Regions from separate parts of the Homo sapiens genome. Here region 1 is linked to region 2. A link means that fine-mapping ties the variant in region 2 to the expression of a gene that starts in the linked region. Tissue or cell type: gastroesophageal junction. Region 2 holds a variant in brackets; the other region holds the start of a gene. All regions are shown on one strand. Distances are between the middles of the regions.

Region 1 (2,911 bases), 8.4 kb after region 2:
TGGGAGGTGGAGGTTGCAGTGAGCTGAGATCGTGCCATTGCACTCCAGCCTGAGCAACAAGAGCGAAACTCCATCTCAAAAAAAAAAGAGACAGAACATATCACTGCACTCCAGCCTGGGTGATAGATAAAGCCAGACCTTGTCTCAAAAAAAAAAAAAGAAAAGAAAAAACAAACGGTGTCTCACTCTGTTGCCCAGGCTGGGGTGCTGTAGCATGATCGTAGCGCACTGCAGCCTCAAACTCCTGGGCTCAAGTGATCCTCCTGCCTCAGCCTCCCAAGTATCGAGATTAAAGGTGCCCACCACCATGCCTGGCTATTTTTTATGTGTTGTAGTTGACCAATCTTATCTCAAACTCCTGGCCTCAAGCAACCCCCCGACCCCGACCTGGACCTCCCAAAGTGGTGGGAATTAGAGACATGAACCATTACTCCTGGCCAAATTATTTCACCTGTAAAAACTTCAGTATGTATCTCAAAGAGATAAGGACTTGTTTTTAACAGAAATACAAGCCTGTATGACATAGAAATACAAAAAATAATAATAACATAGAAATACAATACCTGGCCCAACGTTGTGGCTCACGCCTGTAATCCCAGCACTTTGGGAGGCCAAGGCAGGCGGATCACTTGAGGTCAGGAGTTCGAGATCAGCCTGGCCAACATAATGAAACCCCGTCTCTACCAAAAATACAAAAATTAGCCGGGCATGGTGGCACTCGCCTGTAATCCCAGTCTACTCGGGAGACTGAGGCAGGAGAATCTCTTGAACCTGGGGCGGCAGGGGGGTTGTGGCGCGGAGCTTGCAGTGAGCCGAGCTCCTCCACTAGGCAAAAGGGCGAGACTCTGTCAGGAAAAAAAAGAGAAGAAAAGAAATACAATACCCGAAAAGTTTTAGTAATTCCTTAAATCAGTTATCTTTGAATTATTATCCAAAAAAGATCCACACATTGAAACATTTTGTTGATACATCTCTTAAATCTCTTTTATTCTGAAGTGTTTTCCCCTCCCACATTTCCCACTTTGCCATTTTTTTGAAGACGACAGATCATTTGTCCCATATAATTTCCTACATTTTGGATATGGTTGATTTCATACCTTTGGTGTCTTAACATATTCCTGCTAATCTCTATATAGCCTATAAACTGGTAGTTAGATCTTGAGGCTTGATTAGGTTCAATTTTTGGCAATAGGTGATGCTCTGTATTTCCTATGCATCTCACCAGGAAATGATATGATGGTATGATTGATCAGAGTTGAGGTATTGTTAGCTAGCCTGATGCATTCATTATGTCTTTTTTTTTTTTTTTTTTTTTTTTTTTGAGGCAAGGTCTAGCTTTGTTGCCCAGGCTGGGGTGCAGTAGCGCGATCGCAGTTCACTGCAACCTCCGCCTCCCTGACTCGAGCGATTCTCCCACCTCAGCCTCTGGAGTGCTGCGACCCCAGGCGCCGCCACCTAATTAATAGACGCGTTGCCTCCGTTTTTCAAATGTCCCTTTCAGGACGCCGTCCCCTTCCTGGTACGCGAAGCGCTGGGAGCGAAAGGGACTTCCGGGAGATCTAGGAAGTCGCTTCTTTTTCTGGTAGAAGGCGGGGTTCTCCTCGTACGCTGCGGAGTCTCTGCGGGGTGTAGACCGGAATCCTGCTGACGGGCAGAGTGGATCAGGGAGGGAGGGTCGAGACACGGTGGCTGCAGGTCTGAGACAAGGCTGCTCCGAGGTAGTAGCTCTCTTGCCTGGAGGTGGCCATTCATTCCTGGAGTGCTGCTGAGGAGCGAGGGCCCATCTGGGGTCTCTGGAAGTCGGTGCCCAGGCCTGAAGGATAGCCCCCCTTGCGCTTCCCTGGGCTGCGGCCGGCCTTCTCAGAACGAAGGGCGTCCTTCCACCCCGCGGCGCAGGTGACCGCTGCCATGGCTTTTCCCCATCGGCCGGACGCCCCTGAGCTGCCTGACTTCTCCATGCTGAAGAGGCTGGCTCGAGACCAGCTCATCTATCTGCTGGAGCAGGTCAGTGCTTGCCTGACGCCTTTATCGCATCTACAGTTTAGCACTCATTGGATGCACATTTCTTCCTTGCCGTGCCCCTTTGATCTTGTTCTTGGCCCCTGGTATTGTCCTTGGCGCTTCCCCAGCAGGTCCAGAATGAATCCAGGGAGTAGTAAGAGCTGTTTGGAACCTGGCCAGAGAGTTAATGGAAATCACCCCCCAACCCCGCATACAGGCAAGGGAGACACCATTAGTGCCAGGCATCCCTAGGGACGGAAAGATGGTTAAGACATCTTTGCCATTAGGGATCTTACCACTCCAGTAGGAGCTGTATGAAGCACAAATTATCACACACAGGTGGTAAATGAGTGATAGAGCTAGTGTACCCGAAGAGTTCACAGTAAGTGATCATTTCTAGTTGGGGTGATGATCTAGGAGCTTCAAGGAAGTGAGTGTGAGTAATAAGCATATTTTCTTTGGAGACTAAGCATGCTCCAGGCAGATAGATTGGTAGGAGCAAAGTTGGCAAACCAGGGAAAGACAAGGCATGTAAGGGAAGACACCCATCAGCAGTTACACAGTAGCCACTGAAAAAAATTTTTTTTCCATTTGTGGCATGAGACAATACTTGATGATTCTAATAGTGATGTGTGTGGTGGCGTAAATGGGCAACAAGAAGGCCAGTTAGGAGACCGTAGATCAGACAAGAAATAAAGGCCCACACAAAATTGGTAGCAGTGGGAATGAAGGAAAGTGATGGATTTTTAAGTTATGGTGAAAGAAAACTCAAAGACTTACTGATTGGTTATAAATGTTGAAGGAGAAGCAAAAATGAGTGAGATTTTTAACCTGGGTTATTAGGAAAATAATACTGCCACTGTGATTTTAATGGATTACTTGTGTAATCATTTAGTTATTCATTTTATGT
Region 2 (2,911 bases):
CAGTGAGGGTGGGGACAGAGATGGCCCACTGTACCTCCCTTGTTGAGTTGTCCGAGGACCCCTCTGGCCACCCCTCACAGGCGATGAACTGGGCAGTAAGGAGGAGGAGGAGGCGCCTCAGCCCATGCCGAGCATCTTGGAGGACCTGAAGAGCCGGGAGGCCATGGTGAGCCTGACTCCCACTGCCCCACCTTTGCTGCCTCCCTCTGTGGTCCCTCCCAGACCCCCTTTTGCTCTTTGTTTCCTGCCCTCTGATTTCTCTGGACCCTCGTGCCTTCCCTGGGAGCCAGTGATCAGACATCATTTCACCTGTGACCCACAGGTGCACCCTCTGAGGCCCCAAAGGAAGACCTCCTCTCCCCCTCCCTGCCGCGTTTGTCCTGTGTATCCCCCTACAAGAATGCATATGTCTTGCCTGCAGGTGGCCTTTTTAAACTCAGCTTTAGTCAGTGCCGAGGAGGAGCAGCAGGCACAGCTACATGGGCAGCTGAAGGAGCAAAGGGTGTGTTGCCAGCACCTGGCTCACCCAGTGGCCTTGGCCCAGAAGGAGCCAGAGGCGGCAGCCCCAACCCCAAGGACCGGGGGCGATTCCGCGTGTGGGGAGACCCACCGGGCTTTCTCCATGTTGGCCAGGCTGGTCTTGAACTCCTGACCTCAAGTGATCTGCCCTCTTCGGCCTCCCAAAGTGCTGGGATTACAGGCCTAAATCACCACACCCAGTCCAATGAAGACTTTTTTACAATTTGCAGTTCAGGCTGTGGAAAATTTGAGCTACAAATTAGCAAGAGTTTACTCTTCACATGAATGTTGTCAGATTCATCTTTTAATAATTGGTGTTTATATTTTCATTTAATGTCATCCACTTTTCTACAGGGTATGGACAGTGGATTTGCAGGTGGAGAAGACAAAATTTATAATGTTTACGATCAAGCCTGGAGAGGTGGTAAATAAAGATATGGCCCAGAGTATTTATAGGTCTGGTAAAAACCTGGACAAGGATATGTATGGTCATGACCTAGAAGCCAGAAGAAAGACCAACAGGTATCAAGCCATACAACTCTGTTTCAGTGTTTACACCAGTGAAAATAAAGTAGTTCATAGTCTTTTCTCTTGTTCCCTAGATTTGTTCCCAACAAGGAGTTTTTCAGACCATAGACAGAGAAGCCGAGAGGCTGAGAAGGACCAGTTCAGTTTGAGGAAGATTCTTTTGATTTGGACACATTTTTGGAAGAAGCCAGACAGCATGGTGGCCCTCAAAGACCCTCAGCAGCTGCCCCAGAGAACATGAGCATGAAGGCAAGAAGAGGAGGAAGGAGCAGACACACGTCTCTTCAAAGCAAATGAACTGTGATCATCCATAACCCTAATGATGCAAGTGCTGTGGCA[C/T]GACACTTTGTGAATGGTCAGGATACAAACCAAATCTGGATTCTACTTTTTATTATTGGAGAAGGCAAGGGTGGGGAGGGGGCGGGGATAGAAAATTTTACTTTGAATTATTTAGTTTTTTTAAAGAGTGGGTTGTATTTGTGCTTCTCCCACCTTTCAGCATTTGTAGAACATGCTGGCCCACATACACAATCAAGACCACTTCCTTCTGTGTGACACTAGCAGTTCGGGTTAATATTTTGTGTAAGAACAGCTGCTTATGAGTCAAGTCACCCCAACGGCAGTGAGGAGGAGGATGTTCACATATTGGTACTGTCCTGCCAAATAAATGTGGCCCCTGTTGCGCTGTGTTTTAATTCGGAGTGGGGAAAAGAAGCTCTTGCTTTGTTTCAAATGAAAACCTTTAGACAAAATTCTCGGTTATGTTTCCTTTATGTAATAGGCTGGGAGAGTCTCAAAAATCTTCCTCTTCACCAGATGTTTGCAAAACTTTAGGCCTTTGAGCTTGAACCTGGAGCTGGAAAAAAATAAGCACTGTAAGGAAGGAAAGGCAATGTCTGCAAAAACATTCGATCTGAAAATCGCCTTTTTATGAGGGAGTCAGTGAAAAGAACTCAGGCAGTTTTTATGTGCACCTTGTTCTTTTATTTGTTTTCTCCTCAAACTCCCTTTACCATCTTTGTTGTTCCTATGACTCCCTCACCCTCCATTAAAAATTGTAAATTGGGCAAGTCACAGTGGCTCAGTCCTATAACCCCAGCACTGTGGGAGGCTGAGGCAAGAGGACAGCTTGAGGCTAGGAGTTCAAAACTAACCTGCAGCATAGAAAGGCCCAGTCTCAACGAAAACAAATAAATTAAAAAATAAAATATAAATCAATCTGGCCCAAGATCGCATAATAAGCAGGAAAGGCAAGATTTCAGCCCCAGCTTACCTGACTTGAGAAGTGCGCTGCTGTGTGCACTGTGTTCTGTATATCTTGCTAACAATTACAGGTCTTCTTGTACTTCTCCTTTAAAACTGGGAACTCTTCCACCCCAGCATTCTAACAAGCATGAAGGCAGCTTCAGTTACAAATCTCTCAAAGTCCCCATCGTTCCACATTTATGATCTATTTAATTGATACATAATCAGATAGTAGCTGCATGTATATCATAGATGTATCTGGTATACAAACAGATTGACTTGACTCCATCTAGAATATGATTTTCCTGTTGTAGTGCATTCTGAAGTTCTTCTGAAGAAAACTGAACCCAACCCGAACCTCTGTGAAAGCCAGTCTCCTTGTCCTAGAACTTCAAAATATGGGAAAAGATTAATCATGAACTTGAGAAAGTTTCCATGAGCTCCAAATCAAACTGCCAAATTTTTCATCGGCCACAATCGGGTTGATTATTTATTGTTTGAGACAGCGTCTCGCTCTGTGACCCAGGCTGGACTGCAGTGGTGTGAACATGACTCACTGCAGCCTCAACTTCCTGGGTTCAAGGGATCCTCCCACCTCAGCCTCTTCAGTAGCTGGGAT

Direction of the effects. Alleles are on the strand shown, and positions count from the first base shown. SD is a standard deviation of normalised expression in the study named.
As copies of T replace C in region 2, the expression in gastroesophageal junction of the gene that starts at base 1,536 in region 1 goes down (moderate effect, 0.40 SD a copy in GTEx).

Evidence for each region.
Region 1: it holds the start of VPS33B-DT, and the variant in region 2 is fine-mapped to the expression of VPS33B-DT in gastroesophageal junction (GTEx, PIP 0.98).

Annotation. Positions count from the first base shown.
Region 1 is chr15:91,021,247-91,024,157 of GRCh38, reverse strand. It overlaps VPS33B-DT (VPS33B divergent transcript), which reads right to left and starts at 1,536. Exons shown (of 4, transcript NR_110104.1): 1 at 1,418-1,536; 2 at 187-845. VPS33B (VPS33B late endosome and lysosome associated) reads left to right here and starts at 1,564. Exons shown (of 23, transcript NM_018668.5): 1 at 1,564-2,004. The coding sequence starts at 1,909. RefSeq lists enhancers at 1,600-2,009, 1,864-2,480.
Region 2 is chr15:91,029,651-91,032,561 of GRCh38, reverse strand. It overlaps VPS33B-DT (VPS33B divergent transcript), which reads right to left. Exons shown (of 4, transcript NR_110104.1): 3 at 2,321-2,681; 4 at 1,423-1,903. It also overlaps the pseudogene LOC390638. Among named protein-coding and RNA genes, the nearest start is that of VPS33B-DT, 8.5 kb to the right of the region's middle. The variant C/T (reference allele first, on the strand shown) is at 1,387.